2 linked regions of the Homo sapiens genome follow. The protein of the gene in region 2 interacts with the protein of the main gene of each other region in a pairwise test. Each region holds a gene or a part of one and is shown on either strand. Other genes may lie near its edges. The genes, in order: NCOA5 and ACOT7.

Region 1 (3,811 bases), on a different chromosome or scaffold from region 2:
ATCTATTTTCTGTCTCTATAAATTTGCGTATTCTTGATATTTCACATAAAGTGAAATCATACAATATTTGTCTTATGTCTGGCTTATTTCACTTAGCATAATGTTTTCAACGTCCTTCATGCTGTACCACAGATCAGAATTTCATTTCATTTTATGGCTGAATGATACCACATTATATGAATACACCACTTAAAAACAAATCCACACAGTGGCTTACACCTGTAATCTCAGCACTTTGGGAAGCCAAGGCGGGAGGATACCTTGAGCTCAGGAGTTCAAGACCAGCCTGGGCAACACAGTGAGACTCCACGTCTATACAAAAAAATTAGCCAGGTGTGGCGGCATATGCCTGTAGTCCCAGTTACTTGAGAGGCTGAGGTGGGAGAAGTACTTAAGCCTGGGAGGTCAAGGCTGCAGTGAGCTGTGATCATGCCACTGCACTCCAGCCTGGGAAACAGAATGACACCTTGTCTCAAAGAAAAAAAAAAAAAATCCATTAATCTGCTGATAGACATCTGGAGTGTTTTTACCTTTTGGTTATTGTGAATAGTACTGCTATGCATATTCATGTACAACTGAGTCCCTCTTTTCAATTGTTTTGAGTGTATACTCAGGAGCGGAACTGATAGATCATATGGTAATTCTATGTTTAACTTTTTAAGGAACTGCCAAACTGTTTTCCATAGTGGCTATACCAATTTGCATTCCTACCTACAATTTCTCAGAGTTTCAATTTCTCCATACCTTTCCAACACTGTTATTTTCTGTTAAAAATGTTGAAAATCATTCATACATTCAGCAAAATTTATTGAGCAGCAGCACATCTATCACTTGACAGTCACCAGAAATAAAAGGCTGATAAAATGACTGCTCTTACAGAGCTTTCAATTAGTTTAGCAGAACATACATAAAAAGAACTCAGGAAAAAACAAGCAGAGTAACTACGTATGTACCTGTACATAGGATCTCGGGAGTCTCTCATGTCTCTGTATCTGTCGTACATGGGGTCTCGCTGATCTCGAAAATCCCTAGAGTCTCTTAGATCACGAAAGTCTCTAAGATCCCTCACGTCCCGAACGTCGCGCACACTCCTGCTGTCTCTGTGATCCCGCAAATCTCTACTATGTCTGTGGTCCCGCAAGTCTCGGGGGTCTCGAATGTCTCTGCTGTCCCGGGCATCCCGGCCATTTCTGCCATCCCTGGGCTCTCTCCTTGGACTTCCTCGAATTGGGGATCGATCACGCCTTGAATCTCGACTGTCTCCAAAGCCATATGGATCCCTGTGGGAGGTAGCAAGAAAATGCTAAGACAAAGAAATTGAAAGTAGCCAACCCATCAGCTCTTCATATGAGAAAACCCCCACCCTCCAAGCATTCTTCTCTAAAACAGGGCAGCCAAACAGAACATGACTCAACATTTAAGGCCAGTCATCCATCTGGTCAGCAAATAGTCTAGAGGTTCCACAATCTCAAAAGATTAGGACATCAAAAGAATGCATGACCAAAAACTGAAGGTTTTGACTGGATAACAGTATTCATCAGGCTTTCAAAGTGAAAGTGTCTTTCCACCAGACTTGCTTGAAAGAGACTTTACAAGGGGTAAAAAGTTGGAGTGACAGAGTAAGGAGGCAAGACTCATGAAGAAAAAAAGAGCGAATGGCACAATCTTATAAAAGTGATCAAAGGAACTGTCCTTAAAGTACGGAAAATGCACTTGAAGTATCTTGGCAGGATAATAAAATTAAGGGGAAAAAATTACTATAAGATACATACAGTAAAGGACCAAGAACAATCTGTTTCTCTGTTTTGTCAGGGCTATTGAGTATTGGTATCTCTCAATCTGAGGGTTTACGTAGAAGCTGATTCCATTTTGCTCAAGATGGTTTAAAAAAAAAAAAAAGAGAACAAAACAAAACAAAAAAACAACCTGAACAGTGAAGTCACAGATATGCTTTGTCTGCTCTGACTCAATGTTCTTCATGAGACGTTTCAACCCACTGGAAACTCCTCTTCAACATATTTAAAATTAAAAACTTCTTACCCCAACCCCATCAGTCCCATTCCCCACTTTTCCACTTTTGACAAAATCATCTTTCCACTTATCAAGTTTTAAGTTCTTGAATATTAACTATGCTTTTTCTTCCCCCATCCCAATAAAGTCACTTGTGTCCCGTTCACTTTTTCTTTCCATTCCCATTGGATTTGTAAGTCCAATCCAAGCCCTTATTTCTATTCTGACACCAACAGGTTTCCAAAACACAAAATTAAAAATCAACCTACTTGCTTTCAATTCATTCAACACATAAATACACTAACTATCCTAAAATGCCAACTTCTATGTTAGAAAGCCTAATAAATCTGACAGCTATTATCTCCCTCTCATTTCTAATTCAACCTCCTCAGTTCTACTTAATTCTTATAACTCACAAGATATAATCTATCTCAATAGTTTTATTTATTTGATTTCTATACTTGGAATATTTTTCCTGCACTAATCCAAGTACCATCCAATCCACACAGGCAAGTTCGTGTCCCATGTCTTCCAAGAAACCTTCCCTACCCTTCCTAACTGCTGATCTCTTCTGCTCAGCTCAGGGCACTTTCTATCTGTATTACTCATCTTGATCTGGCATTTACCCTTTTACAACAATGTCTTATGTCTGACCCGCTTTAAGGATTACCTTCTCCGTAAAACCTGCCCTGAACTCTTGATCTTCCCCAACAACCATGCTCCTCCTCCAGTCCTTCCCATCTCAGTAAATGGCACATCCAACTACTCAGTTACTCAAGCCACGAAACTGGATGTCATCTTTCCCTTAAAGCCTCATCCTCCCTTCCAACCACATTTCCAAATTTTCTCCATTCTTTCTCAGTTCTGCCCACTTTCCTTTACCTTCTTTGGCAAAACTGAAGGCCAGCGCATAATCATCTCACCCTCAAACCACAGCAAGAGCCTTCTAAAGCAGTCTCCTCATTTCTGTTTTTGCCTCTTTCCAAATCTTTCTCCAGAAAGATCACTCTACAGTGATCTGTTACGTATGTAAAGCCCTTCCCTGGTTTCCCACAGTATGTATTTATTTTTATAGGGATGAGATCTCACCTATGCTGCCCAGGCTGGAGTGCAGTGGCTATTCACAGGTGGGATCACGGAACACTACAGCCTTGAACTCCTGGGCTCAAGTGATCCTCCTGCCTCAGCCTACCAAGTAGCTGGAACTACAGATGTGTGCCACTGTGCCAGGCTCCCACAGTATTTAGAATTCAATCTACAACCTCTACCAATGCCATGAAGGTCCTGTATAATCTTGGCTCCTGTCTTCTCTAACCCTGTCACACCCTCTCCCTAGTTCACCACTCTTTGCCACACCGGCCTTTCAGCTCTGCCTAGCCAACGTCTTTCCTGATCCCTTTACGTGAGTAGCAGGAAGAGATCTATACTCCTCTTCCAGGTCTCAGCATATAAATATCCCCTACTCCCTGATTGTTAGATTCAATCAAAGTTTACTTTCTGCCCCTAAAATTCTCTCATAGCACTGTTTTCACTTTTGTCATTTATCACAAATTGACATTACATATTTACTTAATGTCTGTCTGCCCTACTAGACTACAAGTGCCACAAGGACAAGAACTATGTCACTTTGATTCTGCACTACAAACCCACTATGTAGAACAATGTCTGTTATACGACAGATGCTCTATATGTATGTTGAATGAATCTTGCTCCAGTACAAACTTCTATAACCGCACTTACCACACTGTTCTGTAATTGTTTACGTGGCTTCCCTACCAAATAAGAAGTTCTCTTGAAGGCT
Region 2 (3,811 bases):
CATGGATCTGACCACCCCAGGAGAGAAGGGCCACAGGTTAGGACATGTCAAAGCCAAGGGTTCGGGGACCGTGTGGTGGCCGGGGAGGCTGGAGTATCCCTACAGACACTACAGGGTCCCCCATCCAGGGAGCGCAGGCTTCACTGAGGGCCTGGTCAGCTGTGCTACAGACAGGGAGCGGACAGCAGACAGGGCGTGTCCTTGCGTCTGTCCATGCTGCCCGCAGAGGGAAGACAGAACTGGGAAAGTTTGTCCAGGAGGCAGGAAGAGGTAGGGGGCGGGGAAGGAGAGAGCTTCGGAAATGTGCCTGGGTCAGGTGGGGGATTCAGCATCAGGACAGACAGCAGCCACGCTGAAAAGCGTCATGGGAGGGGCGTCGGGTCCATGGGGAGAGACCAGAGCGGGCCCAGGTGGGAGTGGAGCCCATACTTCATGGCCGAGAAAAGCAGGCAAGTTTGGAGAAGGCGTGTCCAAGGTGAAAGGAGAACCAGACACAGGGCTGAAGGTCAAGGACAGAGGAGGCTGGAGCCTCATAGCAGGGTCAGGGGCTGAGGAACGACTGCGGACCAGCCCAGGCGACGTGGAGGGAGGACACCATCCTGCCAAGGGCCGATGGGTGGCACGGTGGGCCAGGGCAAGGCGGGTAGGCTTACAAGTAAATGGGGAGGGGTGGGGGCAGATGAGGGAGGAAGGAGCAGGCAGCAGAGCCAGCCCTGATGGGGCAGGAGGGTGGCAGCCTAGGGTACTTTGCCACAGAAGAGGCTGTGGGGCTGAAGGCATGGAGCAGTCCTCGCACCAGAAGGGGAGCATGCCTCGTAAGCCCCAAGTCAAAGAGGGGCCTGGTCACGAGAGTCATGCAAGGGTGGGTCACAGGCATTGTGTTAGTGCCGTGCTGGGGGCACCCACCACTCACTTTCCTTCCTTTCAGCCTGGCCGAGTCCTCCTCATCCATCAAGTCCAGGTTCACCATCAGCTCCTCTACTCAGCCCACCCGACCTGGGAGAGGCCGGCACCCAACTCCAGCGAAGAGCTGGCCTGGAGTTGGCAGCGGAGGGTACTCGCTGGGCCTGACAGCTCACACACCACACCTGGCGCTACCACCACGGGCCCTGGTGAGGCATGAGCTCCTCCACTCCAGGAAGGGGCAGGGCTGGGAGAGGGGCTTGGAGGGGCCTCAGCCTCGACTGGGAAACAAAGCAGCTGGGGCGACTCGGCGGCCCTCCTCAGCCATGTGGGGAAGCGACAGGCCGTGCTCCAGGCTCTGAGAGGAATGGGTTTTCAGTGCATGTTCGCCCCAGAGATTTCAGTGCACGCTCCTCTCCGGGAGGCTGAGCAGCAAATGCTTGCGGATCTGCGTGGGGAGCAGACGCCGCGGGGGCAGGGGCCTCGAGAACCTCTGGAATCAGGGGTCAGCCTCGCAGGGCCGTGGTGCCTGCCTGGCCACTTCCATGAGAACGCCAGCTCCCAAGAGGCCTGCGGGCACCCGCCTGCTCCCAGCTGCTCTGTTCCCGCATCCTCGCTCCCCGGAGGGGCAGGAAGCTCCTACAGCTCTGCTTTCCTCTTGCTCCCCTCAGTGACAGACACAAGAGCTGGTTCAAAGAGAAATCAGGACCACCCCAAAGGCTGCAGAGCCCCTGGGGTCAGCCAGGATGGGGAACCTCTGTTCTTATGACAGAGACAGGGAAGCTGCCTCTTTGGGCCGCGCGAACCCTGTCGATGTCTGTGACCCTACAGAGTCCATGCCAGGCGGAGAACCACCAGCTCTCAAACGTGGCAGAGCTCAGGGGATGTGGACACCTGGGGGCAGCAGCCCCTGTGAACGAGTGCGTGTGGCCTGCACACGCCCACCCCACCTGCCCTGCATGAGGAGGAGAAAGGCCAAGGGGCTGGGACCCTCAGCCCAGAGCCCACCAGCCTGGCTTGGTCTCATCAGGCAGGACCTGCAGGCCAGGACCACCTGGAGGGAGCCCACCCCTCCAGCTTCCCAGCAGGCCCTTCAGCAGAGGATGGGGGACCCAGGGCACGGTCCTCATCCCCCTCCAGCATTCTTACACAATGCCAGGGAACACCAAGGCGCCACACTCAGAGGCGACCTGGACGCCCAGGCAGCAGCCATGCTAAGGCGCTCTTAAAGGGGTCTGTCTCTCTTGTCCTGTCTGCCCAGCCCCACCCCACGGGCCCTGGGAGTACAGCCCAAAGGCCTACCCGCTGGTTATGAAGCGTTCCTTCTCAAGGCCTCACCGGATCAGCCCCGCAGCCCGAGGTCACCGGTCACGGCAGTGGCCAGGCCCAGCCCTACTCTGACCCCTACTGACAGGACAGGACTCATGCAGGCACAGATTCCCCCTGGAGGCCCAAACACAGGGACCCTAGGGCTGCCTGGCAGGGAGGGGCCGCCGTTCCAAGGATGCGCACTCACCACCAGCTGGGGCACAGGCAGCGACCTGCCTTCCTGGCTCAGCGACACGTAGGTGAAGAAGGCACTGGCGGCCCGGTAGCGCTTCTGAGAGCTGTCCACAACAGGGTCGGCGTCCACCAACACCTCGATCTCCATGGACTTATTGCTCGTGAAGGTCATGCGTCCCGAGATGGTGATGACGCAGCCTGTGGAGAAGGGAGGGCGGGGGTCAGGGCGGCCTCCACCCCACGGCTGGGCGGGGGACACTGGCGTTTCTGTGGTCAGCAGGCAGACACTTGGTTAGGGGAAGCAGTGGCTTGGCTGACTACCAGATGTTCAAATAACAGAATATTAGAATGTGTCGTTAGTTGCCCATGAATGTTTATCTTTCTAGTGAGCAGGTTTATCTACGCTAAAATTCAGCACTGAAGGATTTTGGTGGCCATGAGTTCAAGCCCCCGCCCAGGCGGGCTCTCTCCTGGCCGGGAGTGGCAGCACCTGCTGAAAGGCTTCAGAGCCACTGTGCCCCCACGGGGGAGGCCGCAGACTGCCTTCCAGGAGCTGTGGGTGTCGGCTGGCTCTGCCCTTCCTTAGGTCAGGGCCAAATCTGCAAACTGCACTGTCCATTCATTGGCCTTGCTGGTGCCCACCGGAGCCACAGCTGCCCCACTACACTGCTCCAAGCACCAAGACAGAACCTTGTATCACCTTCCACAGCCATTCCCACCCTCAGGGGCTCCAGTGACACAGGGCAGCTGCCCGTGCCCCTTGGTGGGATTGAATCTTATGTGACTGCATGCCAAGCCTCCCTTCTGGCCCCACTGGTCTCGCCCACGGGACCAAAGCTTCCTCCTCTGGGCTGCTGGATGCCACACCCCTTGGCCAGAGTCCTCCATGCTCAAAGCACCAGCCCCATTTCTCTGTGAATCATGACAAAGTCCAAAGTCACCAGTTCCCATACATTGTTCCCATGTCCCTCTCTCCCCCTCAACCCTAACCAACCTCTCTGTACGCCCCACGCTCCCCAGGGCACGACAGTCCATCCTGGCAGAAGCTTCCTGACCCAGAGCTGCTCTTCTGCCCCCACCACCCTCCCCGGCCTGGGCTCCATCCTCCTACCTGGCCTCAACATAATCCCTTAATCTCAGGGAGCTCAGCTCTTCCCTATAGGCAGGCATGAGACACCCTGCCTGGGGGATAGCTACGGGATGGAAGGACTCAAGCCAAGAGCTGACCTGGGGCCCCGGGAAGGTGTCACCATCGATGTCACTGGCCACCAGGCTGCAGAAACCCCCGGGGACTTCCGGGGCAAGTGCTGCCCTGCGGTCAGAATGCCCTCCCAGGCGGCCCAGCGTGGCCTCTATTCTGGGCCAGGCTCAAGGATATCCCTGCCCGACTCTGGCTGCTGGGACT

The links.
Region 1: the proteins of ACOT7 (region 2) and NCOA5 interact in a two-hybrid assay, tested with the Homo sapiens proteins (one large-scale study listed by BioGRID).

Annotation. Positions count from the first base shown.
Region 1 is NC_000020.11:46,069,257-46,073,067, forward strand, and holds part of NCOA5 (nuclear receptor coactivator 5), read right to left. Parts: intron 1,281-3,811; coding exon 954-1,280; intron 1-953. UniProt on the Homo sapiens protein: Nuclear receptor coregulator that can have both coactivator and corepressor functions.
Region 2 is NC_000001.11:6,278,683-6,282,493, forward strand, and holds part of ACOT7 (cytosolic acyl coenzyme A thioester hydrolase), read right to left. Parts: intron 2,605-3,811; coding exon 2,420-2,604; intron 1-2,419. UniProt on the Homo sapiens protein: Catalyzes the hydrolysis of acyl-CoAs into free fatty acids and coenzyme A (CoASH), regulating their respective intracellular levels.